Regions from separate parts of the Homo sapiens genome. Here region 1 is reported to be linked to region 2. The links are microRNA targets in miRTarBase. Many come from high-throughput screens and were not tested one by one. Region 2 holds a microRNA gene; the other region holds the end of a gene's coding sequence.

Region 1 (14,833 bases), not on the chromosome of region 2:
TAAAGTGGTCAGTTCGTCAAGAGAATGTAAGTTCTAAACATTTCTGCACTTAACAGTGCTTCAAACATATTAAGCAAAAACTAATAGAGCTGCAAGAAGAAATACACAAATTCACAATTACGTTTGCAGTTTTCAGTACCTTTTAATAATTTTTAGAATAATTAGGCAATAAATCAGCAGGGATATAGTAGACTTGAATAATATTATCAATCAACTTGATCCCATTATTTATAGAACACTCTACCCAACAGCTATATACTACATATTTTTTTCAGTGTACGTGAAACATTTTCCAAGATAGACTAAGCTGGCTGTAAAGCAAGTGTCAAATTCAAAGGATTCCGATCATTCAGAGTATGTTCTCTGATCACAATGGAATTGATAGAAATCAGTATCAAAATATCCTTAGAAACCCCCCTAAATATCAAGAATCTAAATAATAGACTTTTTAGTAACCCTTGAATTAAAGAAGAAATCAAAAGGCAAATTAGGAAGTAGTTTGAATGGAATGAAAAGGAAAAGACAATATACCAGAATTTGTGGGATGCACCTAAAGCAAAACTTAAAGAAAAGTGTATAGTGCTATATTGGAAAGAAGAAACTTCTCAAATCACTGACCTCAGCTTCCACCTTAAGACACTAGAGAAAGAGGAGCAAGTAAAGCCCAAAGTAAACAGAAGAATGGAAATAATAAAAATCAGAGCAGAAATCATTGCAGTGAAATACAGAAAGCCAACAGAAACCAATGAAACCAAAAGCTGGTCCTTTGAGAATTTCAGTAAAATTGACACACCTTTAATCAAAATGATCAGAAAAAAAGAAAACACACATTACTAATGTCAGAAATGAGAAAGGTGACATCATTACAGATTCTGCAGATATTAAAAGGATAATAGAATATTAAGAGCAACTTTTTGCCAATAAACTTGACAATATAGATGAAATGGATGAAGTCCTTAAAAGACACAAATTACAAAAGCTGACTCATGAAGATAGAGATAACTGGAATAATCTTATTTCTATGAAAGAAATTGCTATTAGAAACCTTCCAAATGGCTTTCGTTTTGTTTCTTTTCTTTCTTTTCTTTTCTTTTTTTTTTTGGGGGGGGGATGGAGTCTTGGTCTGTTGCCTAGGCTGGGGCGCAGTGGTGCAATCTCAGCTTACTGCAACCTCCACCTCCCAGGTTCAAGTGATTCTCCTGCCTCAGCCTCCCAAGTAGCTGGGACTGCAGGTGCGCGCCACCATGCCTGGCTAATTTTTGTATTTTTTTTTAGTAGAGATGGGGTTTCACCATGTTGGTCAGGCTGGTCTTGAACTCCTGACCTCGTAATCCACTGCCTTGGCCTCCCAAAGCATTGGGATTACAGGCATGAGCCACCGCGCCTGGTCCCCAGATGATTTTCTTGGTGAAACATTTCACCAAACATTTAAGAAATAAATGCCAATTCTTCAAGAACTCCTATTGAAAATTGATGAAGAGGGAATATTTCCCAATTCTTTCTGTGAGGCCTGTATTACCATGATGCCAAAATCAGACAAAGACGTCACAAGAGAAAAGAATTATACATCAATGTCTCTCATGAACATAGATACCTAAATTCTCAGAAAACTTTAGCAAATTGAATCCAACAATATATTAAAAGGATAATATGTAATAATCACAACCAATTTATATATCCTTTGGTATACAAAAAGGATAATGTATAATAATCACAATATGTGAGATTTATCCCAGAAGAGCATAGTTGGTTTAATATTTGAAAATCGATGTAGTTTATATCACTAAAGTAAAAAAAAAAAAAAAAGGAAAACCATGTGATTGTCTCAGTGGAAGCAGGAAAAGCATTTGTCAAACTCTAGCATACATTCCTGATTTTTTTTAAAAAAAGTCCTCAAACTCAAGAGACATGGAGAGTTAGAGGGAAGGGAATTTGGAGTCAGGGAGGCCAGGGAGGACATTATTAACACATTGAGTGACACTGGAGATTGGAGTAAAGGCAGTGGCAATGGGAGTGGAGGGGAGGAAAAGAACCTGAGTGACAAATTTCAGAGGTAGAATTGGTAGGACTTGGTGACTAACTAGCTATTGAAGGTTAGAGGAAAGAGTCGAAAATAAAGATTTAAAAGCATGAGTGTTCAGGTGGAGGGGACTCTGACACCTTAGAGAACATAGAAGGCAAGATGTCTGCATATGAAGTGGATTAGTCCCGAGAGTATAGAAGGGGGTGTAAGTAAGATAATTAGTTCAGTTTTGAATGATCTGTGGGGAGATTTGTGGAGATGCCCCATAAACAACTGGAACCCGTGAAAAGAGACCTCATTATTCTGTCCTATGTGACACCTGTGTGTATCTAGCCAAAGAACCAGCTAGTCGGCAGCCTTGGTTCTAGTTTTGATTCAACGTGAGAATTTGTTAATATCTCTCCAAATTTTAGGCTGTTTGTGAAAACTTGGGGCATGAAATAATTAGATCCCCAGTTTCTAGAGGTTAGTCTTTTTTTTTTTAAAGATAGAATCTTGCTCTGTCACCCAGGCTGGAGTGCAGTGGCACGATCTCGGGTCACTACAACCTCCGCCTTCTGGGTTTAAGTGATTCTTCTGCCTCAGCCTCCCCAGTAACTGGGATTACAGGTGCCCACCATCATGCCGGGCCAGTTTTTTTGTTTGTTTGTTTTTTGGTATTTTCAGTAGAGACGGGGTTTCGCCATGTTGGCCAGGCTGGTCTCACTCTCGTGACCTCCAGTGATCTCCCTGCCTCAGCCTCCCAAAGTGCTGGGATTACAGGCATGAGTCACTGCGCCTGGTCTAGGGCTTAGTCTTTTAGAGCAGAAGGGAAATGAGGACTTCAGGTTGCTAAAGGCCATGCTGTGGCCTGCTAGGCCTGGCTGAGGATCAGTTGGGCAGCAGTGGAGTCATGAGTGTTTGTTAGGAGGAGAAAGATGAAACTGATGCTGGAAAAGATGGGCATTTCTGGGGAAGGGTTGATGATAAGCTGCTGCACTACTTAGCTCTCATTTTCTCCACAGTGGCTGTAAACCTAGCTGAAGACACAGCTCATCCCAAACTCGTCTTCTCCCAGGAAGGGAGATACGTGAAAAATACAGCATCAGCCAGTTCTTGGCCAGTGTTTTCTTCAGCATGGAACTACTTTGCTGGATGGAGGAATCCTCAGAAGACTGCTTTTGTAGAGAGATTTCAGCACTTACCCTGTGTTCTGGGAAAAAACGTTTTCACCTCAGGGAAACATTACTGGGAAGTTGAGAGTAGAGATAGTCTGGAGGTTGCTGTTGGGGTGTGTCGGGAGGACGTCATGGGAATTACTGATCGTTCAAAAATGTCCCCAGATGTGGGCATCTGGGCGATTTATTGGAGTGCTGCTGGCTATTGGCCCTTGATAGGCTTCCCTGGAACTCCCACCCAGCAAGAGCCAGCTCTCCACCGAGTGGGGGTTTACCTGGATCGTGGGACTGGGAATGTCTCCTTCTACAGCGCTGTGGACGGAGTGCACCTGCACACCTTTTCTTGTTCTTCTGTCTCACGCCTCCGGCCATTTTTTTGGTTGAGTCCATTAGCATCTTTAGTCATTCCACCAGTGACTGATAGGAAATGAGGCTTTTCTTCCCCTGACCAAAACTCCTTCCCTGTAGTCCAGCTGAGGGACACACATCCCTGGGCCCTCTTCTGCCCTTCATGTCTCTATCCTGGATGGTCCATCTTCTGGGTCTCCCTAACGGTACCGTTTGGTATCTGCCCTTTGTGTGCTTCACAAGAGGCAGTCCCATGGGAGGTGGGTCTGGCCAATGGAGATGGGACAGGAAATTTTCCAAGACGCTTTTGGGAAATCTTTTTGTAGCTTTTAAAGAGATGTGCGGGGAAGACATATGGATGTTAGCAGCCATATTGGAACTGAGAACACAGGAATGGTGGAAAGGTAGAAGAAACAGAGTTTTTGTTGCCGTTGTGAAATTGTTGAAATTTCCTTCATGCCAAGCTTCTTGTTATATGAGATAATTACGCCCTTATTGTATAAGACAATTTTAGTTGTATTTGGTTACTTGCAGCCTGAAGTACCGTAACTGCACTAAAGGGACGTAGTGTGAACATCCCGCAGTATAGGCTTAAGTCACTTTTGTGAAATTTGACAAAGGCATAGAATCTTTTTCTATCCAGTCAGGCATTGCCTATTCTTTCCAGTAACTACTGATTCCCCCACTTTTCTGTCTTAGAAAATTGTGGGAATCCCCCCTCACTCTGCCTATGTTGCACTCTCTCTCTTCCCAACCATAACTCTGCCCTCAGCTATTAACTGTGCTGTGTATTTATCAAGTTGGTATGTTGTATGTACAGTGTTATTCATGTCATCATGAGAATGTTGAACGCTTGTTAAATATCTTTTGCTAGCCTCTTCATATGCTGTTGCATATGACTCTCATCACAACTCAGTGAGATGGAAAGTCAAATCCTATTTGTACAAATGAGAAAACTGAACTCTTTAGAGTAACTAGCTCAGTATTGGCCAGCTGGTAAATGGCAGTGTTGGGATTAAAATCCAGTTCTTATCTACTCTCCCTTTATTCAGAAGCATTTATTGGATGTTGATCTTTGTTTCAGGTTTTGATTTTGTTACTTTTTTATACTGTGTATATTTTCCTCAGTCTACCCTTCTGCTCTAGATTGTCTGGACTCAGGAGATTGTGGCAGTTACTGGATAGTTATTTTTAAGATAATGATTGCTTTTCTCTGTTTATATAAGTCATGTGTACTTATTGTAGAAAGTTTGTAAGATGCAAAAAGTATAAAAATTAAAGTTATGCACTACTAACATTTCAATATATTTTCTCCCAGATTTTCAGTAAAGACTTTCAGGCAGTGATTTAACGAGGATTTTATTTTAACTTATATTTTAGTTTAAGGGGAACACGTGCAGGTTTGTTCTATAGATCAATTACATGTCACAGGGGTTTGGTGTACATATTATTTCATTACCCAGGTAATAAGCATAGTACCCAATAGATACTTTTTTGATACCCCACCCTCCTCCACCCTCTACCCTCAAGTAGTCCCTGGTGTCTGTTGTTCCCTTTTTTGTGTCCATGGGTACTCAATGTTTAGCTCTCCCTTATACGTGAGAACATGTGATGTTTGGTTTTCTGTTCATGTGTTGGTTTGCTTAGGGTAATGGCCTCCAGCTCCATCCATGTTGCTGCAAAGACATGATCTCATTCTTTTTTTATGGCTGCATAGTATTCCATGGTGTATATGTACTATGTTTTCTTTATCCAGTCTACTGTTGATGGGCATTTAGGTTGATTCCATGTCTTTGCTATTGTGAATAGTGCTGCAATGAATATATACATGCATATGTCTCTATGGTTGAATGATGTCTTTGGGTATTGGGCATATACCGAATAATGGGATTGCTGGGTTGAATGGTGGTAGTGAGGATTCTTACACAACTTACAGCATCTTCCCTAACTCCTCCTCCCCTCCTCCCCTTCTTATACATCAGCCATCTTGGCTTGTCTTCCTATTCAGCCTGAGCAGCCCCCTCATTCAACAGTTTCTACTGAGTTCTCAACTTCCCAGGATATTTGCTGTTATAGGTTGAATTATGTTCCCCAAAAACATATGTTGAAGAGCTACCTGTGAAAATGACCTTATTTGGAAATAGGATATTTGCAGATGTAAACAAGATAAGGTCATTTGGGTGGGCTCTAACCCAATATGACTGGTGTCCTTATAAAAAGAAGGAAACTTATGCATATGTTCACACACTCATGCCCACACACACACAGAAAAATGCCAGATGGAAACAACGTGAAAGAGGCTCTGGAAGATGGAGGCAGAGATTGGATTGGAGTTATGCTGTCACAAGCCAAGGAACCTGGGGCTACCAGAAGCTGGGGGAAGCCAGGAAGAATCTTCCCCTAGAAGCTTTGAAGGGAGCATGGCCCCATCAACACTTTGGTTTCTGATTTCTAACTGCCAAAACTGAGGTTAGACAGTAAATTTCCATTGTTTTAAGCCACCCAGTTTGTTATGGCCACCTTAGGAAATGATGACTACACTTGCCCTTCAGGACGTCCTTCAGTGCCTGTCTTACTAATAGCTAATCCTTTGGAAACTCATCAGTACCTTCCCTCCTCTCTTCCTTCTGGCTATTGAAAGGTTGATTGATTCTGCTATAAATCCTTGCTCTCTGCCTTCAAGTGGGCCCTTTGAGCTGCATGGTAAACTTTTTTTATCACTTGACTTGTTTTAACGTCTTTGGTGGCAATGATTCCAAACTTTTCCTTTTAAGCCTTCATGAGTCCCCCTTCATACGATTGCAAAGAACTTGCATCTTCAACAGAGAAAAAATTCTTTTCCCCTACCCTTCTTATTCTTCACAATTCTTTGTCTCTGTGCTTGAGTCTTGATATTGACCCCTCTGGTCTCATCAGGTATGGGATGGGACCTAGGTGTTCATTTTTGTTTAAAAAGCCAACCAAGTCCCTCTCCCTCTCCCTGTCCCTCTCCCTCTCCCTCTCCCCACGGTCTCCCTCTCCCCACGTTCTCCCTCTCCCTCTCTTTCCACGGTCTCCCTCTGATGCCGAGCCGAAGCTGGACTGTACTGCTGCCATCTCGGCTCACTGCAACCTCCCTGCCTGATTCTCCTGCCTCAGCCTGCCGAGTGCCTGCGATTGCAGGCGCGCGCCGCCACGCCTGATTGGTTTTCGTATTTTTTTGGTGGAGACGGGGTTTCGCTGTGTTGGCCGGGCTGGTCTCCAGCTCCTAACCGCGAGTGATCTGCCAGCCTTGGCCTCCGGAGGTGCCAGGATTGCAGACGGGTCTGGTTCACTCAGTGCTCAATGGTGCCCAGGCTGGAGTGCAGTGGCGTGATCTCGGCTCGCTACAACCTCCACCTCCCAGCTGCCTGCCTTGGCCTCCCAAAGTGCCCAGAGTGCAGCCTCTGCCCGGCCGCCACCCTGTCTAGGAAGTGAGGAGCGTCTCTGCCTGGCCGCCCATCGTCTGGGATGTGAGGAGCCCCTCTGCCTGGCTGCCCAGTCTGGAAAGTGAGGAGCGCCTCTTCCCGGCCACCATCCCATCTAGGAAGCGAGGAGCGTCTCTGTCCAGCCGCCCATCGTCTGAGATGTGGGGAGCGCCTTTGCCCCGCCACCCCGTCTGGGATGTGAGGAGCGCCTCTGCCCAGCCACGACCCCGTCTGGGAGGTGAGGAGCGTCTCTGCCCGGCCGCCCCATCTGAGAAGGGAGGAGACCCTCCGCCCAGCAGCCGCCCCGTCTGAGAAGTGAGGAGCCCCTCCGCCCGGCAGCCACCCCGTCTGGGAAGTGAGGAGCTTCTCCGCCCGGCAGCCGACCCGTCCGGGAGGGAGGTGGGGGGGTCAGCCCCCCGCCCAGCCAGCCGCCCCGTCCGGGAGGGAGGTAGGGGGGTCAGCCCCCCGCCCGGCCAGCCGCCCCGTCCGGGAGGGAGGTGGGGGGGTCAGCCCCCCGCCCGGCCAGCCGCCTCGTCCGGGAGGTGAGGGGCGCCTCTGCCCGGCCGCCCCTACTGGGAAGTGAGGAGCCCCTCTGCCCGGCCAGCCGCCCCATCCGGGAGGGAGGTGGGGGGTCAGCCCCCTGCCCAGCCAGTCGCCCCGTCCGGGAGGGAGGTGGGGGGGTCAGCCCCCCGCCCGGCCAGCCGCCTTGTCCGGGAGGTGAGGGGCGCCTCTGCCCGGCCGCCCCTACTGGGAAGTGAGGAGCCCCTCTGCCCGGCCAGCCACCCCGTCCGGGAGGGAGGTGGGGGGGTCAGCCCCCCGCCCGGCCAGCCGCCCGGTCCGGGAGGGAGGTGGGGGGTTCAGCCCCCCACCCGGCCAGCCGCCCTGTCCGGGAGGTGAGGGGCGCCTCTGCCCGGCCGCCCCTACTGGGAAGTGAGGAGCCCCTCTGCCCAGCCACCACCCCGTCTGGGAGGTGTGCCCAACAGCTCATTGAGAACGGGCCATGATGACAATGGTGGTTTTGTGGAATAGAAAGGGGGGAAAGGTGGGGAAAAGATTAGAAATCGGATGGTTGCCGTGTCTGTGTGGAAAGAAGTAGACATGGGAGACTTTTTATTTTGTTCTGTACTAAGAAAAATTCTTCTGCCTTGGGATCCTGTTGATCTGTGACCTTACCCCGAAACCCTGTGCTCTCTGAAACATGTGCTGTGTCCACTCAGGGTTAAATGGATTAAGGGCAGTGCAAGATGTGCTTTGTGAAACAGATGCTTGAAGGCAGCATGCTCCTTAAGAGTCATCACCACTCCCTAATCTCAAGTACCCAGGGACACAAACACTGCGGAAGGCCTCAGGGTCCTCTGCCTAGGAAAACCAGAGACCTTTGTTCACTTGTTTATCTGCTGACCTTCCCTCCACTATTGTCCTATGACCCTGCCAAATCCCCCTCTGTGAAAAACACCCAAGAATGATCAATTAAAAAAAAAAAAAAAAAAAAAGCCAACCAAAAAAAAAATCCACCCATAAACTCTTTCCCATGCTTCTTGATATACAAACAGGATTGAAAATAAACTGTCAGTTGTAAACTAAAAATCCTAAGCCTCCCGTCTGACTGAATGAACCCCCTCTTGGCTAAGGGGACTCCGGAGAAACCTGAAAAACAAATTTCTGGCCATGATGGGCTGAGAAGTTAGACGTGTCTCAGGTGCACCTCCTCCCTTTTGGAGTTTAGACACAACAGCTGCCCAACATTAATATTAAAATAGAGACAACAGGATTAACAAAATGGGCTCTGTGACAATAAGATACCAAATTATAAATAAGACCTAAGGCCATGACAGACCTTAAGTCACACACCTTTACAGGTTAGTCTGATGCAGTGAATTAGCTAACAGACTTCCTGTCCTTCAGGGATGTCCTAGAAAGGGGCTGTAGTGCTGCAGTTGTCCACTTTCCGGTGGTATCTGCATATCATGCAGACCTGTCTGCAAGCTGAGGAGCAAGGAAGCCAGTCAGAGTCCCAAAGCTGAAGAACTTGGAGTCTGATGTTTGAGGGCAGGAAGCATTCAGCACAGGAGAAGGATGTAGGCTGGGAGGCTAAGCCAGTTTAGCCTTTTCACATTTTTCTGCCTGCTTTATATCTTGGCTGTGCTGGCAGCTGATTAGATGGTGCCCACCTAGATTAAGGGTGGGTCTGCCTTTCCCAGCCCACTGACTCAAATGTTAATCTCCTTCGGCAACACCCTCACAGACACACCCAGGATCAATACTTTGCATCCTTCAATCAAGTTGACACTCATTATTAACCATCACAATACCCATATATATACACACTTCTAGAATTATTTCTTTGTCTACCCATCTATATTTATATTCAGCTAAGCATGAATTAATACTAATGTCTCCAACTGTAATCCAGCTCCATGAGATTCATTCTAGCCTTCCCTCCTTTCTTATCATCTGTAATTTTCTTCTCTGATCATCCACCATCTGTTTATTTATAACCCCATCATACACGCAAAGCAGATTCAGAATTGTTAACCTGTATCCCAGTGAGAAATTTATCAACTGGAGTACAGTGTTTGTGCACAATTCCTTTTATTTTTCACCTTATGTTTTTCCATCAAAACAGCATTTTCCAAAGTTATTCAGCTCCTTCCCCTACCACTCCATTCTTCAGTGAGATTGTGTAATAAAGATTTGTAATATAGTTAGAGTCATCCTCACAGTCTGCATTTCATCCTGGAATTCTTTGAACATCCTGTTTAATTTTTAAAATTTTGTGTATATCAAAGTTCACTCCTTGTTGATGTATGGTTCTATGGGTTTTGGCAAATGCATGAGTTATGTATTTATCACTCCAGTACCAAATATAATAGTTTCATCATCCTATCATTACCCTGTGTATCCGCTTTGTAGTCATCCACCTGCCCTCCCAACCCCCAGGTGGGAGGGCAGGTGGATGACTCCCAATGTATTCTGCATATATTGATATAATCATATGGTTTTTGTTTTTGGTTCTGTTTATGTGATAAATTACACTTACTGATTTGCATATGTTGAACTAACCTTGCATCCCAGGGGTAAAGCCTACTTGATAGTGGTGGATTACCTTTTTGATGTGCTGCTGGATTAGATTTGCTAGCATTTTGTTTGTTTGTTTTTTGAGATGGAGTTTCGCTCTTGTTGCCCAGGCTGGAGTGCAATGGCCTGATCTCGGCTGATTGCAACCTCCGCCTCTCGGATTCAAGCGATTCTCCTGTCTCAGGCTCCTGAGTAGGTGGGATTACAGGCACGTGCCACCACGCCTGGCTAATTTTTGTATTTTTAGTAGAGACAGGGTTTCATCATATTGGTCAGGCTGGTCTAAAACTCCTGACCTCACGTGATCCGCCCTCCTCGGCCGCCCAAAGTACTGGGATTACAGGTGTGAGCCACCAAGCCCAGCCAAGTATTTTGTTAAGAATTTTTCCATCTATGTTTTTTTTAAGGATATTGACCTGAAGTTTTCTTTTTTTGTTTTGTCTCTGCCATGTTTTTGTATCAGGATGATCCTGACCTCATAGAATGAGGTAGGGAGGAGTCCCTCTTCAGTTTTTTGGATAGTTTCAGCAGGAATGATACCAGCTCTTCTTTATACATCTGGTAGAATTCAGCTGTGAATCCTTCTGATCCTGGGCTTTATCTGGTTGATAGGCTTTTTATTACCAATTCAATTTTGTAACTTGTTATTGGTATGTTCAGATTTTTAATTTCTTCCTGGTTCAATCGTGGGAGATTGTATGTTTCCAGGAATTTAGCCACTTTTAGTAGGTTTTCTAGCTTGTGTGCATGGAGGTGTTTGTTATACTCTCTGAGGTTTTTGTTTTTTTTAAATATTTCTATTGGGTCAGTAGTAATGTCCCCTTGTCATTTCTGATTGTGTTTAATTGGATCTTCTCTCTTTTTCTTTATTAGTCTATCTAGCGGTCTATCAATCTTACTTATTCCTTCAAATATCGACTTCTGGTTTCATTGATATTTTGTATGGTTTTTTTGCACCTGAATTTCATATAGTTCAGCTCTGATTTTGGTTATTTCTTGTCTCTTACTGACTTTGGATTTGGTTTGCTCTTGTTTTTCTAGTTCCTCAAGGTGTGATATTAGGTTGTTAATTTGAGATTCTAGCTTTCTGATGTGGGCAGTTAGTGCTATAAGCTTTCCACTTAATACTGCTTTGGCCATGTCCCAGAGATTTTGGTATATTATATCTTTTGTTCTCACTAGTTTCAAAGAATTTCTTGATTTCTGCCTTCATTTCATTGTTTACCTAGAAGTCATTAAGTAGCAGGTTGTTTAATTTCCATGTTATTGTTTAGTTTTGATTGCTATTCTTATTATTGTTTTCTATTTTTATTGTTTTGTGGTCTGAGAGTGTGGTTGGTATGATTTTGGTTTTTTTGAATTTGTGGAGAATTGTTTTATGGCTGATTGGTTGATTTTAGAGTATGTGCCATTGCAGATGATAAGAATGTGTATTATGTTGTTTTTGGAATGGAGAAAACACAAATAAATGAAAAGACATTCCATGTTAATGAATTGGAAGAATAATATTGTTAAAATGTTCATATTACCAAAGCAACCTACAGAATCAGTGCAGTCTCTATCAAAATCCTGATGGTATTTATTACAGAAATAGAAAAAAATCCTAGAATTCACATGGAACCACAAAAGGCCTCAAATAGCCAAAGCAATTTTGAGCAAGAAAAACACAGCTGGGGACATTACAAGTCCTGATTTAAGACTATATTCCATAGCTACAATAATCAAAACAGCATGATACTGATATAGAAGTTAAAAAGGAATTATTTAGGCAGTTAGTAAGGGTAAAAGAATTCTCAGTGGAATTTCCTTTTAATAAAAAGCAGCCCCCACATCATTTCTTTTCTAACAAAAATCAACCTGAAAAATCAAGCTGCAAGCATTGATACACAAGCTGGAAGCTTGCATAGGTGAATACTGGCAGCCGTGCCGATACCAAAGAGATACCTGGAAGCCAGGTACATCCAACATGGAGGTTTTCTCCTCCCTTCTCTTTGTTGCCAAATGTGCAGATGTCATGGTGCTGGCCAGGTGGAGATCCCACCTGTATAATAAAAGATTAGGGTGGGATGGCCAGCCTAATCACGGGCTATGTAAATGGCACACCTGGTCCAACCAATCCCATGGGCCCTATGAAAATCAGACACTGCCTTTCTAAGCCCCTCTATAAAGTCAACTGCATCTCACCCCAAACCTGGAAACCCACTTTGGTTCCCTTCCTCTGCATGAGGAAGCTCTGTCTTCTTTCTTTCACTTTAATTAAAGTTCTGCTCTTAAACCCACTCCTTGTATGTGTCCTCATATTTGATTTCCTTAGCACAAGACAACGAACCTTGGGTATTTCCCCAGACAAATGATGTCGCTTCAGTATTGGCATAAAAACAGACAGATAGACAAACAGAACAGAATAGGCAGTGCAGAAATAAACCCATGCATATACAGTCAGCTTATCTTCAACAAGTGTGCCAAGAATGCACAATAAAGACAGGATAGTCTCTTTTCCATCCTGGCCAACGTGGTGAAACCCCGTCTCTACTAAAAATACAAAAATTATCTGGGCATGTCGGCATGTGCCTGTAATCCCAGCTACTTGGAAGGCTGAGGCAGGAGAATTGCTTGAACCTGGGAGGCAGAGGTTGCAGTGAGCCGAGATCACGCCATTGCACTCCAGCCTGGCAAAACAGTGAGACTCCGTCTCAAAAAAAAAAAAAGAAAAGATAGTCTCTTTAATAACTGGTTTTGGGAAAACTGGATATCCGCATGCAAACAAAGAAATTAAACCCCTCTCTTACACCATACACAAAAATCAGCATAAAATGAATTAAAGACCAAAATGTAAGACCTGAAACCATAAAACTCCTAGAGGAAAACATAAGGGAAAAGCTTCTTGACATTAGCCTTTATAATGATTTCTTGGGTATGACACCAAAAGAAGGCAACAAAAGCAAAAACGGGCAAGTGGGAAGACATCAAACTCAAAAGCTTCTGCACAGCAAAGAAACGATAAAAAATAAAAATAAAAAGCCCACCTATTGAATGAGAGAAATTATTTGCAATCTGTATTAGGTTATTCCTCCATTGCTATAAGAAGTACCCAAGGCTGGGTAATGTATAAAGAAAAGAGGTTTAATTGGCTCATGGTTCTGCAGGCTGTACAGGAAGCCTGGTGCTTGTGTCCGATGATCTTCTTGGGAGGCCTCAGGGAGCTTTTACTCACCGTAGAAGGCAAAGTGAGAGCAGGTAGGTCACATGGAGAAAGCAGGAGTGAGAGAGAGTTGGGGAGAGTGCTACACAATTTTAAACAACCAGCGAATATCAGTGAAGCAAAACATTTTAGGATTTGAGTTGAGATGGAGAAACAAAGAAGAGGTCAACATATCCCTATAATGGAAAGGAAGGGCAGGGTATGAGAATGATATCGGAGTGCATAAGAAGGAGAGGTAGGGTTATGCCATTTTTTCCTTTTCCCTCTGTGTCTGAAATCTTTTTCTTTCTTTCTTTCTTTTTTTTTTTTGGAGATGAAGTTTTACTCTGTCACCCAGGCTGGAGTGCTGTGGTGCGATCTCAGCTCACTGCAACCTACACCTCTCGGGTTCAAGTGATTCTCCTGCCTCAGTCTCCCGAGTAGTTTGGACTACAGATGTGTGCCACCATGCCTGGCTAATTTTTGTATTTTTAGTACAGACAGGGTTCTGCCATGTTGGCCAGGCTGGTCTCAGACTTCTGACCTCAAGTAATCCACCTGCCTCCATCTCCCAAAGTGCTGGGATTAAAGGTGTGAGCCACCGCACTCGACCTGAAATCTCTTGACATGTTATATTCATGTAGTCTATGAAATTGGAGTACGATCAACAGCTAGGATGGGAACTGCCTGCCTCTATTCCTTGACTTCTTTCCTATGATATGGCACATGGAAACCCTCAAAAGGGTCCTGTGGGCAAAAGAGACTAGATATTATTACTCAGACTGTCTTCTCAAAAGGGTTGCGTGGAAAGGCGTTACAGAAATCTGGGTTCCCAAGTGAAAAACAATCAAGGGACTCTAAGAATTTTTTATCTCCACAGTTAATTGGCCCCTGAGGAGAATATTCTCCTGTTATCTTCAGGCTCACTCCGCAAAATATCTCATTCTCCTGATCACTTGGAACAAACTCCAAGTAAAGCCCTTTGGGGATGCTTATCTCAGTGCATACAGCACAGTCTAATTGACATCTTGAGTAATGGTCTCCAGAAGCCATGCAAGATGTGTCCTCTGGGATGGAATCCCTGACGCCATTCTATTTAGTGTCCACAATTTGCTTCAGCTGACATAGGTCCTCTGGGTTAGGGGGATGTTTTATTTCTCCCAGATGATGTCTGTTTTTTCTTATGATTGGCTCACATCAGACCAAGAATGTTCTTACTCTAACCCCCATGATTACTATTGAGAAGACATTTATGCAGTCAGAAAAGTGCTTCCTGACTGCATCAGCCAAATTCATATTTTATTAAGTAGGGAAGGAAGTGTAAAGCTAAGAAGAGAGTGCCTTGAGAGATCCAAAACAATGGAAAACCATAACAGATTTTCTTTTGACTCTGGGCACATTCATGATTAAACTGGTATTCAGTTTACCTTCTTAATAAAGTAATATTAATGGAAATTCCTATTGCCCAAGCTCCGATATTGGAATGGAGGGTTGTCTCAAATATACATATAGAGCCAGAGGAAGCATATGTGTGATTCAAAGGTCCAACTAGTAGAGGCTAAAGTTCAGTTACTTAATCTGTCCTGATGTGTGTTGATGG
Region 2 (14,833 bases):
GTTCTTTCTTAAAAACAGCAGAATATACCCCCTTAAATGACCCGTTCCTCCCCAGGGTCCTTTGGGGAATTTAAGAAAATCCTGGCTTTTTTTGCTCAGCTTGTCACTGTAGGGAAGGATGGGGAGTGAGGTCACAGGAACCAGAACCTACACATCAGAGGAAAGGAGAGCTAATGAAGCTGGCCAGGAGCTGGGCTAGGGGCTGTAGCCTGGCTCCCGAGAGGTGTTCGAGGGCTGGCTGCCTCAGTGGGATTCCTGGGTCCTTGTATCTAAGAGTAGAAAGTATCATAAACAGGGCCTGGTTATTCTGCTCAGATCTTTGCTCTAAAGTGCTCTGGTTATCCTTCCTCTTCTCTAACAGGGTCTCTAAAAGGGTCCTCACTGTAAGGTGCACAACTCCATGCCCCGGAGGCTGCCTGGGCTCTGTCTGCAGCATGCAGATTGCCGGGCCAGCCCCTGAAGTGGGGGGACATGGGGCAGAGAATTCCAACCCATTTCCGTATCCCTGCCCGCTGTGAACCCCACTCCTCCCTCAGAGTCCCCAGCAGCAGGTACCTGGGGAGTCCCTCTGCCAGGCTGTGGTCTCTGCTCCTCTCTGCTTTGCTCGAGCAGGAGTCCTGTCGACTCTCTTCCCTGACTTTACCCCTTCACCCTTGGCAGAGGGCTCCAGTACCAGCTGGAGGCTCCCTGAAGTCAGGTCCCCTTGCTGCGTCTATTTGAGGGGGAGGAGTCTGGACTAGCACCTGGGTCCACTCCCCACTCATCAGAGCTCATCATGGGAACTCCCCTCCCATCCTCCCCCTCCTTTTCCATGCCCATAGTCCAGGAGGGACTAAGGAATGGAAAAACAGCCCCCAGAAAAACAGAAGCCCAGAATAGGATGGAGAGGCAGGGTGGACACTGGACAAACCTCCTGCTACCACACAGTTGGCTGCATCTGACTGCAAGCTGTTGGCCCTGGCTTCTTCCCCATCCTCCTCTCTGGCTTTTTCCCAGCTCAGGTCCAAGATGGTTTACGGTCTGGGGGCACAGACGATGCCCTGCCCAGCCAGCTTTGTGGGAGCCAAGCAGAAGAGATGCCAATCCATAGAGCATCCGTCCTCCCCCACCACTAGGAGGTTCCTCGGCCTCCCTGCTGATCCTTTCCCTTGGCCTGACCCCCACATCTCTCTGTGCCAGATACTCTCCTGGGGTCCTCCAACCCTTGCACCTCTGGCAAAAATGGGGCAGTGAGTCAGAGACAGCATGAACATGTGGAAGAACCAAGAGAAAGAGGAGACTCAGAGCAGGCCAGAAAGTAAGATAAAGAGAAATCCAGGGCCCCAGGCTTGCAGACCACAAACTCCTAGGTGTCTCGAATTTTGGCAATGTCCTTCATCAGAGTGGGCGGCAGCGGGGGTGGAAGGCTAGGAAGCTATTTAAAAGTGCTGGGGCATGCCAGCAATTCTCTGATAAACAAGAAGAGGGATATTGCGCCCCCCACGACCCATCCCTTCATCTCCCAAGGCAGAGAGCAGAGGCACTCTCAGCAAGGCAACCCCCACCTTAACTCCCCGCCACCCCCCACCCCAGGTAAAGGGCAAAAGAGAAGTGACCCAGTAAGGAGGGTGTGCCCTCGACGCCTCTAGAACAAAGCTGAGCCCTCCGCCCCCTCCCCGGCTCCCTTAGCACCGCGTCTCAGTAATTAAAATATGAATTCACCTTCCCTCCCTGAGCCATTCATCACTGCGAAGGGAAGCAGCTGCGGCTTAGGAGACCGGATTTGGGGGATTAGCTCGGGCGGTGGAGCAGACACACCAGGAGAAAGAATTAAAAACGAAGGGGGTGAATTGGGTTTTCTCTCCCCACCTCCTCCCTCTCCCTCTCCCTCTGGCCGCCACGGAGCCTCCTTCCCCACCCCTTCCCCCAAAGCCTAGCCTCTGCAGGTTTCTGGGAACTGTAGTCTACAAGACCGTGTTGATAAACAGGCAGGCCAGGGGTGGGTGGTGGCACAAACTACAGATCCCAGGACTTCTTCCCGGAGTTGGCACCAGCAAAACTGGGCACAGACCTCCAGTCTGGGAGAAGCCCGCATTCTCCTTGGAGGTTAACTCCTTCTTGGCCTGCTTGAGCCTGAGCTCTAGCCTCTGGCTCACCGAGCTCTCTGGAATCACAGGCCAAGGCCTCTGCCTCCAATGGCCTTCAGAGACCACAGACCCTAGCTTGCCAGACCAGCCACCCTTGTATCTTGCTTGCCCACCTATGGAGAAAGCTCCCTCCACTTTTCCAGACTGCAAGGGCAGCCAAGCATTCTCAGTGGTTCTGAGATTCTTGGGAGCTGGAGAGGTCAGAGCAGCAATAGTCCTGAAATGTCTTTGTGGCCTGCACTCAGTGTTTTCCAGCCTGGCTCGGCAGAGGCTGGCCCACCGTAAGAGTGGGCAACGTGACAGGCAGCAGCAGCTGGGAACCTGGTGGACCAGACTGTCAGCGCCAGAATGAACCCCAAAGGTCAAACTTTAGTGTCAAACTTTCGAAAGATGGGGAGAGAGACTTTTTTTCCCCAATAGTCTTTATATTTAGGAAGGAGTAGGGCTTAGTAGTCAAACTCTATTTCCACTAAAAATGGAACAAATACAATAAGAGAGAGTCATCTGAATTCAGTGTTGTTAAACATGGGCCCACTCTCGCAAGGGAGGCCTTATGCTGGGTATATCTGAGGACTGTAAAAAAGACTTAGATTGCTGGGAATAAAGTTTCAGCCGTCTGCAGGCAGGGGACAGGACACACACAGCCCTCTGATCTGTGAATCCTCCAGGGAGAAGGGACATGAGGGCAACTTGCTTATTCAATGCAATTGAACAATCATGTGAAATATACAATCACATATCTTCTCCAGGCCTGTCCCATTGGCAGTAGCCAAGAGACAAAGAATAGAATGGAGATCCACCTTTGTAACCCCCAGAAGCAATCCAGGCCCAGCCCCAGCAAAGCGAGGACTGTCTCGGGTGAGTTGCTGAGCTGTGGGCTTGCTCTATGTCCCTGCTGGTGGCAACTTACCTCTTTTACCCCATCCATCTTTTCTCCCAGTTCGTACTTCATTCAACAAACATTTACTCAGCCATCCCTACAAAGTCCCTTGCCTTGCTAGAGCTTTACAGAGGTATAATCTCTGGAATGGCTCATCTGTACCCTTCCTCCTAGGCTGAGCCCAGTGCTGGGGACTACCCGGGCAAACTGAACAACAGGATTCCCGGGAGGGGCCCAGTTGCAGGGGGCAGGAAGGTGGCATGGCTCTAACCTGGCTTTCCAGTTAGGAGATCAGGAGTTAAGGGAAGGAAATCAGGTGCCTGGACAGCCTCAGAGCAGGGTAGGGAACAGGATAGGCTCACTGTGGGCCCAGGGCAGCTGGACAATGAGGGAGGTGGAGGAAGGTGCCAGCCATCTCTGAACTCTGGGTGAGAGAACCCAGAGGGCAAGTAAGAAACCCTGGCCAATTCTCATGCCTTGTTCCTTTCACCATCTAAGCTGGGGCAGGAGGGGAAGTAGCCTGGATCAGCCCCAGCAAAAACCCAGCTGGCTTGGGATTTCTCTTTGCTTCTCCTATTGTTCTGATCCCCCCGCTCCCCCCGACCTCCTGTGGGAAAAGGAAAACCAGTGATGGACAAAGGGTGATTGGAGTTGGGCCACGGGGCCAATTTGTGGACGTGCATCCAATAGAGATCTCGTGAGAACAACCTCCCGTCTGGGTACAGCACTCCCTGGTTTTCAGAGTACTTTCCCATGCACTGGTGTTGGCTCTCCCAATATGCAGCATGATGTGCTAAGAGCATGGGTTTTGGCACCAGACCACGTGGGTTCACGTCCCAGTTGTGCTCCTTCCTATCCATATGAACGTGGGCCAATTTCTTAGCTCCCTGTGCCTCAGAATTCCCATAAGTTAAATAGGCTAACAGTAGACAGGACTGTCTTGAGGATGAAATGGGTTAGTGCAGGTGAGGCGGTTAGAATCATGGGGTACATAGTAGGTACCCAGTAAGTGTTGGTTGGTGAAATTAAGGGCTCTGAGATATTATAAGAAACTTGCCTTCTGATTGTCAATACCAAATCTAGTGCTTTCTGTGATTCTTCAGTGGTCTGTCTTAGACAGACTGGGGACTGGAACAGGGAGTAGGAGGCGGGGTACGAGGATGCTTCCTCTTCCACCACAGCCACCTGTTGGAATCTTCCAGGATGGGAGGGCTAAAATCAGGCCGATTTAAAAGGGGGCAGGGGAAGGAATGTGGGAGTGGCGACAGGCATAGGGAGGAGCCAGGCAAGCTGAGTGACAAGCAGGACGGGGGCAGGGAGGGCTGGTGCCCTTCACACACCGCAGGAGGGGGCAGCTCCTGGAGATGGTAGCACACCAGGAGCCAGGGACCCTGGAGTCCAGCCTGTCGCCCGGGGGAGCGCCTGCCTTCCTAGTTTCACTCTGCAGACACCTCCTCTTCCCTCGTGGCCGGCATGGAGTGTTCCCATTTCAGCCTCAGAAAGAGCCCAGAGGTCTCCTTACACAGAAAAAAGGCTGCAGATTCCAAGCTGACCTCAGAGAAAGGAGTGAAGGAGTGAGGTTTTCCTGGAGGCACTGAGCAAAGGCCCAAGTCTTCATGGCCTGAGGCCCTTGACTTCAGCCCCCAAATCTCTGGCCATAAGCCAGGCCTCAGTAATTTGGCAAGGGGGAAGGAACCGACTCAGAAAGCTCAGCACACCCTGAAGGTCTCCTTCCTTCCTCAGAGGGAATCTCCCTCTGGAATCACCGGCCCAGTCTCTTCATTCCAGAGTGAGGAAACAGGGCCAGAAGGGAAGTGACTGGGCCAAGGTCACACGGCTTAGCCCCGATCCCAGGTTACCAGATCCCGTGATGCCCCACCCCCAAGCAAAGCCTCCTTCTGGTGCCCCTTGGTGGCTGGCTCCGAACCTGGTCCCATGGGAGGTGCAGCTGCGCAGGAGAAGGAGCTCGCCCCTCACTGTAGCCCATGGCTTTTAGCCCTACATGAGTTTGGGACAGCAATCACATAGGAATGAAAAGCCATAGGCCACAGCAGAGTGGAGGGGTCCAGCGGCAGGAATCTCATAGGGAAGCGAGAAGCTGGGGCACCCGAGAAGCCCTCACTCCCCTTCTCAGCACCCCCGACCCCAGACCCACCCACACTGCCTCCCTCCAGGACTGGGCCCCCCAGGTTAAATTCTCTCACCATCTTCCACCACCTGCACTAAAGCCATCCCAGTAATGAGTTTCCAGTTCTTGCCCTACAAAGGCCTCACACAATGGTCCTCACTCCAGGGTATGAGGAGGGGTGGCTTCCTGGCCATAAAGGACCTCCTCAAATTCCCTTAATTAGCTTCCAGCCCCCTGCCCAGGGTCCTTAACTACCCCTTCCCTAGAGAATAAGGCCGGATCTTTTCAAGGCTGCTGCTGCCAGTACCCAGGATGGGGGGCCCCAGGTTAGGCTCCCTCTTTACAAAGCTTAACTCTTTCTAGTCCAGCCACTGGAAGCACAGAGGGCAAAGGAGGGTCTGGGTAAAGGAGGGCAGCGATGAGGACCTACCCTTTGTTTAGAGGGGTTAAATAGGTTTCTTGAGTGCCCCCAGGGGTGGGGGCTGGGCCAACCTACCCAGACCAGTCTGGGTGGTTACCGACAACACCCATTCTTGCATAGTTTAGAGGAGAGTGAGATCTCTGTCTCCAGACCTGGTTGGAGTCAGAAAGAGGGCTTCAGCTGAAACCTCCCCAAGCTGAGGGCAGCTCACTCTGGAGCCATCCCTGACAAGGCTGTGGGAGGGGTGCGCAGTGCCCTGCCGCTCTCATTGGCAGGACATGGGGGTTAGCACAGACATCTCTAGGACTGGATTGAAGAGCTGAGTTAAGGCGAACCAAGGTCTCAGGGCCCTGGAAAAGGTGTGTTCTAATCACAAGTGCTATTTCCCCACCCGCTCCCATGACGGGTCAGCTGCAGGCATCAGCTTCAGAGAAGTGGGCTTCTAGGGCTCCTGCTAGCCCAGGCTCAGGAAAGCCCCAGGGGCCTCAGACCTCTCCCAGGGGCCCCCAAGAAGATGGTAAGAGGCCCCAGGCCCAGATCAGGCCCTGCCTCTGCCAGGGAGTAGCTGCCTCTCCCACCCCAACTGTACCCTCAGCCCCAGGGCAACACTTGCTGGCTCCCTGCACAACCCTGGTAGAAGCAACCTGTTTTCACTGGACAGGAATCCTGCATTCCCCAACAACAGCACAGCACAGCACAGCACACAGCACACAGCACAGCACAGCACGCCCCTCCACACACTCCAGACATGCCCAACCTTCAGGGCCAAACAACCAGGCATCCTGCGGCCTCCCACCTGAACTTTGGGCCATCTGCCCCAGCCCCAACCCCCTCTGGTTCTCCTTTCCTTCCTCTCTCATGGGCCCCCAGAACCCCAGACCCAGGCCCTGCATAAAGCCATGGACTCTAGGCAGAATGCCCTCAGCTCCCTCCCAAGGGATGCTGGGCCAGGGGCTGGGGGTCCCAGGGGCTGCTCACCTGGCGGACTCAACAAGGCCCCCTTTCCCTCGCAGTCCGCCTCACAATTCCCCGCAGAGCCACTTCCTGCCTTCCAGGCAGCCACTCACTCCTCCACTCACCCCGAGAAGCTCCACGCCCCAGCGAGGGCAGGCCTCCTCCCTCCCCCTGCCCGCCCACCACCGGCCAGGGCTGAGCTGTACCCAACTCAACTTGACTCACTTGTGACCGGCCCCTCCCCCAGCCCTGAGGACGGTGGGGGTGGGGGTGGGGGCGGGCTGGGCAGGCGGGGCAGCCAGGTATTCCTTCAACCCTGACTTGGGCCTGAGTAACAAAGGTCTCATTGAGCCTCTGGCTGTCTGGTCGGTGAAGCACAAACCTCTTGTATCTACTGGCTTTTGATCTCACTCCCTCTGAACCAGCCATGTATTACTCACGTCCCCCTGCCGGGCTATTGGTGCAGAGGGGCTGTTTGGTCCCTCCCTCCCTCCCCATCTCCTTTCTCTCCTTCCTTCCCCTGCCGCTCCCCTCCAGCTTTTTTATAGTTTAATTTTTGGCAGGAGACCTGAGACGGCTCCCTGCAGGCCCCCCTCTCCTGCCTGGCCCCCCTCCCCTTCTCCGCAGCCCTGGTTCCTCTCCTCACCCATACCCCTATTCTGCTCCCACCACTCCCCTGCCCTGGGAGGACAAGGTCAGCACTTATCTGTCCTTCCATTTCCTTTCTCAGACCTGCTCGAGCCTGGCCCCCTCCACCCACCCTCACCCAGTCCTGCGCTCGGATTCCCAGCCATAGCCTGCCAATCCCAGCTGCCTATCCCTGGGCACATGAAGGGCTCAGCCCCTGGCCTGCCTACCAATCCCAGCCCACCTGACAAGCCCCAAGTAAGCTGTGGAAGTAGGGCATCTCTCTCTAAGGTGTGTCTGGGCCAGAGGGACTGGGCTGGGGATGGAGGTGGGGACAGCCATCATGTCTCAGGCTGGAGTGAACCTCACTTGAAATATGGAGAAAGAGGAAGCAGGTCAAGCCTCACCTCCTTTCCCGAGGAAAACCCTGCTTCCTCCAATCCCGAGAACCTGGGCAGTGAAAGGCCACTGCTGGGCGAGAACCTCGAGGACTCCCTCTCCTCAAGATGGGGCCATGCCCACGATTCCTGTCTCCTCTGGGGCCACCACAACCTTTCTGCAGCTTGCTGGTGGTGAGAACTGGGGCCCAGCAGCCCAAGGGGCCCAAGGGATATCCACTGTGTATAAGGGCCACCTCACAGGGCCACTGGAACATTTTCTCTTTAGCTTCCCCTGGCTCTGTCCCCCAGGATCCCTTTCCTCCCTTTCCTCCTTGGCCACTCCAGGGAGAGAGGCAGTCACCTTTGAGGTCTGAGCTCTCCCCAGAAATGCCAACAGATGCTAAGAATTCCCATGGTGGCCAATTCTAGAGCCTTGCCCATCCCCCACACCTACCACCAGTGGCCTCCTCTCCACTTCAGGAGTTTCCACCCCTCCCTAGCCCTCAGGTACTCCCATTCAGCCGGATTTGGGAAACTTCTGCCCCAACAGAGGCCCCATTCTTCCTGCCGCAGGCTCCCATTGTCCCTCATGACTCCACACATTCTTGGGCCTCTGATGAGAAGTGGAGACAGCCACCCGCCCTGCTTGCCTGCCCTTGCTGTCAGCACAGCCTGGGCCCTGCCGCCTGTGGCAGGAGTTGGGGGGAGTGGTCGGGGGGGTAACCAAGAGGGAATAAAAGGAGGTGGGAGACAAAACAGGAGTGAGGGGGAGATGGAACTGAGAGACACAGAATGGAGACACTGAGAGAAATTGTGAAGAAGAGGACAGAGGTGATAGCAGATGGAAATGCAGAAGAAACTCAATGGGAGAAAAAAGGCGAGAAGGGGAAAAGCAACTTTTTTTTTTTAGTGAAAACTGTGTCATGCATCTAGGTCCCCCTTAATGATCATCTTTCAGTAACACAAATATTTATTATTATTATTCCCATTGGGTAGATGAGAAAACTGAGGTTGATGGAGGCTACAACTTGCCTGGATGGGCATTTTTTGCTCTTAGAGGAGAGGGTAGGAGAAGCCTGAGAGAGAGAAAGCAGAGAGCCAGAAAAGAAGAATGCTGACAAAGAGAAACTGGAGGCAGAGGTGGAGCACAGGCAGAACCGGAGGCAGCAGGGAGAGATGAGGGGGCCTGGGGCAAGAGGCGGAGGGAGGGCTGGGGAGAAGAGACCTCAGGTGTCCCTGGCCTGATTGGCTGGTGGGTGTGCCCTCCCCTCCTCTGTAGTAACAAGTCCCTTAATCTTAGTGCAAGCTGCAGAAGCCAGGTCCAGCATGAAAACTAAAGCCTGTTTCACTGGGGAGCAGGCTGCAGCAACTCCCTTTTTAGGGAGCCCCCAGTCCCACCATTTCCTTCAAGGGCACACAGTCACCACCCTGGACCTCAGCCCACATCAGGGCACTGGTTGGAGATGGCTCTGGTTGAGGCTAAGCCAGGAGGAGAACTCCTTTGCCAGAAAAGTGAACCATTACCCCTCCGCAGCAGAGAAAGTCACAGAGGGAAGGGCCAGGGGGGCAAACTGGGCTCAGTCCAAGAAAGGAAAGAAGTAGGACTGTTCCAACAGGAGCCAGTGGGCTCCCTGTCACCAGAGATCATCAAACATAGGGTGCACAGCCACTTCTCAGACCCACTGCCTGGCACACAGTAGCTGCTCAATAAATGGTAAGCTAATGTAGAAGGGATCCTTGCATCTGGAATTAAGTTAGACAGATAAAACCTAAGGTCCCAACAACTCCAAAATTTCATGAGTCTACGTTGGAGCTTACTCATCCTCTCAGAGCCTTTCATAGACTTATGTACCCTTTGCAGGGACTTAGAGCTCAGCAGACCTGCCTTTGCCTATGGTGGAAGGGAACCAGGACATTAGGAAGATACTAAATAAAAGCCACTTGCTTTTACCACCCCACATATACTCCAATCCAAAAAGACTAAATCAGAAGCATTTCACATTATTCTATGGATGTTGGCTGAATGGTATAGGTATACATTCAATGAATGAATGAATGGCTGATAAAGCTTGGAAACAAGAGCAAGAGATCTAAGCTCTCCTGTATTTCAGGCTTGGTGTGTGCTTGGAGCTCCCTTATGCCTGTCCCCTCAGGGAAGAGAGTCCCTGGGCTGGAACAGGTTATGGGGTGTGAGTGGGCAGCAAAGCCTGGAAATCTAATTCCACTCACATGGGGGTGGGAAGGCACTGCTGAAACTTCAGAGAGCCTCAGGGGATCTGATTCTGCTATCTGCCCCAAACAAGCCTGCAGATTCGGAGTTGTGGTTGAGACGGATCTGTGGGTGCAGTCCCTGGCCCAGAACCAACGCACGAGAAGGCTAGTTTCATGAAGATGGACCCAGCAGGCTCCCACATACATTGTCCTCCAGACCTGCACTAGACCAGCAGTGTGCTTGCTACGGAGAAAGGCCACTAGGTAGCCTTTCCCCATGACTCCGGTCCCCTCTGCTCCGAGGTCCCATCTCTACTCCAAAGGATGGACAGCTCAGGTTCCCTCTCATTTAACAGCTTGGGAGCCCCCAGCCCCCTGAGGTAAAGTGGGGTGGGCACTGCTCCACTGAGCAGGAAAGCACAATTTTTCCCCCAAGGGCTTTCTCTAGTTGTTCCAGGAGCCTCAGTTCTGAGACTTCCCAGGCAAACAGAGGGAGGTCCTAGCCTGGCAGCCCTGGGTTCTTAGGGAAGGGAGAGACGGGAGACCTGGCAATAGTCCCAGGCAATGAAGATAGCAAGAGACCCAGGGGCAGGAGAGCAAACACGGGCAGAAGCTGGGGGAGTCTCCGCAGCCTGGGTACCCCCAGCCTCTGCATCTGATCTCCAATAAGCTCCAAGGTTGGGCTGTGGGAGGGAGGACACAGGGAGGTTCTTGTGTTACAAGAATCTAGCCTCCCCAAGTCCAGGACCCAGGCCACAGTTTTGCCTCTCAGCCAATAAAGCTGTTAAAGAAAAATATAAGAATGGGTCATTGGCAAACTCACATGCATTTCAACCTGAGCAATTTATGAATATCGAAATGTCTCAGTGTCTGCCCAAGCACTATTCCTGCCCCCACCCCTTTTCTTCCATGCCCCTCCTCAACCCCCATGGGGTGATGGTGCCCCAGCCCAAAGAACTATGGAACTGGGCTCTCCCAAGCCCCTGTGGAGTACCTCTTGGAGGAGGAGGCAGACAGAGATGAAGGGTGGGGAGAATGGCTTCAGGGACACCACTCATTTATCAAATATGCACCGAGCACAGACAGTGGGATGGGCACCGTGCTAGGCACCAGGAGACAGCACTCAGGGAGGCCCAGCAGGCAGTCCAGTGGGAAGACAGGCCCATATGCATATGACTGCAATTCAGAGCAGTCACGTCAGCAGGACTGTGGTCTCCCCTGCCACCCAGTCTTCATGTCACCTCTTCCAGGGTTACACTGAATTTGATCCTCCCTAGTTGAGGGTCTCTCCTTCCTCTTCATGCCTTTAGGATGGTAGTCCCCAGCTCTGAGACTCCTGGATGTTCTCTTTGTGTGTGTGGGGTGCGTGGGATGGGGGTGGGGGGTGGTGGTGTATGGGCAATGGGAGGGGCCCTGAGTCTCAGAGAGTGCCCAATACTACTTGGAGGAAGTGTTATCTGGTGTGAGTGTGTGTGTGTGTGTGTGTGTGAGAGAGAGAGAGAGAGATCCTCTTTTCCTGCCTCTGTGGCAGCCCCAGTGGAGCAATGGAAAGCCGGCATTGAATGACTGAGAGATAGAAGTTGTTTGCAGCCCCAGGCCTCCGTTGTGTCCTCCTGGAGGGCATAAGCCACCAAAATTACCCCTAAAGGGGGTTTCTTAGAGGACAATCCCTTTCCCCTCAATTCAGAGCTCTTTCACCAGGGGTTCCCATCCCAGCCTCAAAAGAGCTGACTTTTCCTCCAAAGTTAGCCCTTCTTAAGGCTCAAGTTGAGAAAAGTTGTTCACTGGCAGATTAAGGTATGTAAAAAAAAAAAAATCGTCAGGAAAGATTAAATCAGACCAAAAGAAGAATTTGTTAATGAGGGTTGAGGAAAGGAAGGCAGTATACAAGCACTTCCAAACGGAGGCTGTGGAATGTTGGTCGGAAGGGAGGGCTCTCCCTTGGGCCCCCAGACGCCCTCTCCTGACCAGCTCAGCACTGGCAGGGCTGGCCAGCTCTTGTTCCCCGGGGGCACCCTGTTATGGACCCTTTCTCAGGAAAGGGAGCACCTATCCTTGTCTAGCTGCCTTCCTGGGCCCCTACCCGGCCAGAGCTCCTCCTCCAGGTGGGCTCCTAGCTCCGGCCTTTCTTAGGCATGCAAGGGCCCCAGGGATGGGGAGGCAGTGGGAGGCAGGCTTATGGCCAAGAGGTCTGGCCAGACCTAGACCCCACAGACACAATGGCTAGGAAGGACTCTGATGTGTGTGGGGAGTAGCTGGTGTCTCCTCTAAGCCTGGGACCATGTTTGCCTCCACATATACTGGAGTTGGTGGTTTGGCCCACGGACATGGCTTCTCCCAGGCCCCAAACTGGGGTCTCCTGGGGCCCTCTGTTCCAAGGGTACCAGACAAACATATGCACAGGTGTCACAAACCCCTGATCCCTAACCCCTTTACAGCCCCTTCCTCATACCACTCCATACCATGGGGTATAAAGGAAACGGAGGAGGCACTCCAAGCGGGTTTCACTCAGCGGGGACAGGAGGATCGGCTACCTCCGGAGCCAAGGCTCCCTCTCACACTCCCCCCAATCCCACCAGCGGCAAAATCCTTTAAAAGGAACAAAGGCAATGGGGGCGGGGAGGGGGCTTCCTCTTTGGTCGACCTAGGGCGGCGGCTGACGCAGCCCGCCGCCGGTCAGCTTTCAGGTGAGTGCCTGAACCCGCATCCCGCCCATGCCTTAGGGACCCCTCTTCGCCCAGCCAAGCCCGGGGCGGGGAGGAAAGTCCCCCTCAGCCGCACTCGGGCCCCCAACCCGGCCAAGGGGTCGCCAACTCGCGGCACTTTCTGCCTGTTTGTTTTCGCTCAGTACTCACAGTTTAGATGCTAAGCCGGCTCCTCTTGCACTCACTTCCTTTGTGTCTCTCTCTCTCTTTCTCTCTCTCTCCCCCTCACCAATCTCTTTCTTCCCTCCTTGTCCGATTCTCTGCTGTAGCTTCCAGTGGAGAAAAATAATTATTCTTCAATGGGTTAGCACGGGGCGCACGCACACACGCGCGCGCACACACACCCCGCCGAGGTACCCAATCAATGCACAAATCTTCGGGGTCCCTTTAACCTCTGCGGATGACTCCGGGAGTTAATTATGAAGCCTATTTCGGCGCGGCATAAATATGCATTAAGGTAGGAAATAATCGATACGCTGAACTTCTGGGAACTGGCATTTAGACGGACTCCGTCTCGCCGCCCCCCACTCCCTCCATGGCCCCACGAGCCACCTCCACAGCCTCGCGCCTTCCCGGGGTCGCAACGCCTATCACAAGCTTCTACCCGGGTTTCAGGGGGCCCCTGTAGTGGCGTGGGCGCCGCGCCGGTGCCGGGAGACCCCCTCGTGCGCCCTCTGCGGTCGGGGCAGACCCTCAGCCGGAGCTTCTTCCTCCCCCACCCCTGCAGGCCGGGCCCAAGCTGCGACACCCCCAGCACGGGCTCAGCCTGTGAACAAACTCCGAGCTCAGTACTCGGAGGAACTGGCGAGAGCGGGACGGCTACCTGCCCGCACGCCCGATTTCCGGGCACAGCTAGAAAGACCGGGACGCGATTCAACTCCCAATCCGGTGAATCCGCCTAGCGCCTTCGGGTCCTGCCGCCCCCGGCCAGTCCCGACCCGCACACATATGCAGGCATTTGCACACACGCGCGCACACACATGCACGCACATGCACACACACATATGCACACCCTCGCGCACACAGACACTCCCGCGCGCGCTCACGCCCGCACACACTCAGGGTTATAACAAAGGAAGAGGGGCCAGCGCTGCCTTACTTTTGTCTCTCTTCTCTCTTTTGCAGCCCCCCAGCCCCGGGGCCGGCGTGCCCGGCCCACCCCGCCCTCCGCGCCCCCCGACGGCCGCGGTCAGCCGGCATTCCGGAGCAGCGCGTCGGAGCTGCAACTTCGCGCCTAAGCGCCCGCACCTCGCAGCCCGGCGGGCGGGAGACAAAAGCTGCGGCGCCGCCGCCGGAGGCCGCGCGGCCAAGGTGTGTTCGCTAATTGTCAGGAAATGTGTGTGTGTGCGGCCGGGAGCCCGCAGGGGCGGGGGAGGGGACGGAGGAAGAGGAGACCCACCCCTCCTACCCCCGCCACTCGCCAGCGCCGGGTACCCGAACCGGGATTAGAGAATAAATTATCTGCTCTCTTCTCATTGGGCTGTGGCTGAGGACGCCGTCGGCGGCGCCGGGCTGGGAGCTCTCCCGGCTCTTTGCATTCACCGCACAGCTCCGGCTCGCCTCGCTTCGTGGAGGCCGAGAGCCCGGGGCCTCGGCTCCAGACATCAGGGGACACCAGCCGGCTGGCCGCGCCGCCCCGCCCCTCCCCTCCCCCGCCACCCGGCTTGGCCTCAGCCCCCTCCCCTCCCAATTCTGGCTTGGGTCTTGGGGACGAAGATACTAGGGGAAAAGGCCTAGAGGCCGAAGATCCCAGTATCTTTCCTCCTCTCCCGCCACGCCCCCTTCCCAAGGAGGCGGAAGTGGGGGGGGGGGGGCAGCAGGGGTTGGTCACCTGAGCCCAACCCGCTTCAGTCAGAGAGGGCTTTTAGAGCCCTCGAGAGGATCCCTTCAGTGACCACGGCCCATGTCCTGCCCCACACACAATGACAAAGAAGAGATGGCACTAAGGATCTTTGCTTTTCTCCTCTCTCCAGCCCCCTCAACTGCAGTCCAATATTGTTACTAATTTCTTTCCTTTGGCCCACCTTGGCAGACAGCTCATTAACTGCCTGGAAGGAAATGCCCTCTGGTTCAAAGCAGCTTCCTGCCAAGAATTCATTCATTTAGCAAGAAATATGCAGGATCCTCCCCCCACCGCCCCCCACCACCCGTGCCATGACACGGGCTGGGTGCCAGGAATGCAAAAGAAGAAGATCCAGATGAGACAATCATGTTTTTAAAAAGCAACAAATACTGGAGTCAGAGGTGTTATCCCAGTGTGAGAGGTGCTAAACCAAGGTACAGGCAAAGTTTGAACCCAAAAGGCAGGATTGAGTAACTTCAGCCATTCATTCAATAATAATGTAGCATGTCTTCCATGCCAGGCTCTGTGCTAGGCATTGGGGATATACACAGGTGAACC

Evidence for each region. The annotated mature microRNA hsa-miR-135b-5p reads UAUGGCUUUUCAUUCCUAUGUGA and lies in region 2 at 5,027-5,049, opposite strand. An mRNA with a match to its seed (bases 2 to 7 or 8) in the 3' UTR can be bound and repressed. Matches are read on the target gene's strand: a 7mer-m8 pairs with bases 2 to 8, a 7mer-A1 pairs with bases 2 to 7 and ends in A, and an 8mer does both.
Region 1: the mRNA of TRIM4 is a reported target of hsa-miR-135b-5p. Seed matches in the 3' UTR shown: 7mer-A1 at 3,895-3,901.

What each region holds. Positions count from the first base shown.
Region 1 is chr7:99,880,941-99,895,773 of GRCh38, reverse strand. TRIM4 (tripartite motif containing 4) reads left to right here. Exons shown (of 6, transcript NM_033091.3): 6 at 3,028-5,371. The coding sequence ends at 3,611. Among named protein-coding and RNA genes, the nearest start is that of OR2AE1, 11 kb to the right of the region's middle. RefSeq lists an enhancer at 7,737-8,504.
Region 2 is chr1:205,443,335-205,458,167 of GRCh38, forward strand. MIR135B (microRNA 135b) reads right to left here and starts at 5,064; the gene lies at 4,968-5,064. It overlaps BLACAT1 (BLACAT1 overlapping LEMD1 locus), which reads right to left and starts at 12,711. Exons shown (of 2, transcript NM_001397426.2): 1 at 12,583-12,711. It overlaps LEMD1-DT (LEMD1 divergent transcript), which reads left to right and starts at 12,724. Exons shown (of 3, transcript NR_148934.1): 1 at 12,724-12,889; 2 at 13,558-13,743. It also overlaps a transcript of LEMD1 not described here. RefSeq lists enhancers at 1-400, 1,935-2,446, 2,447-2,958 and a silencer at 6,649-6,858.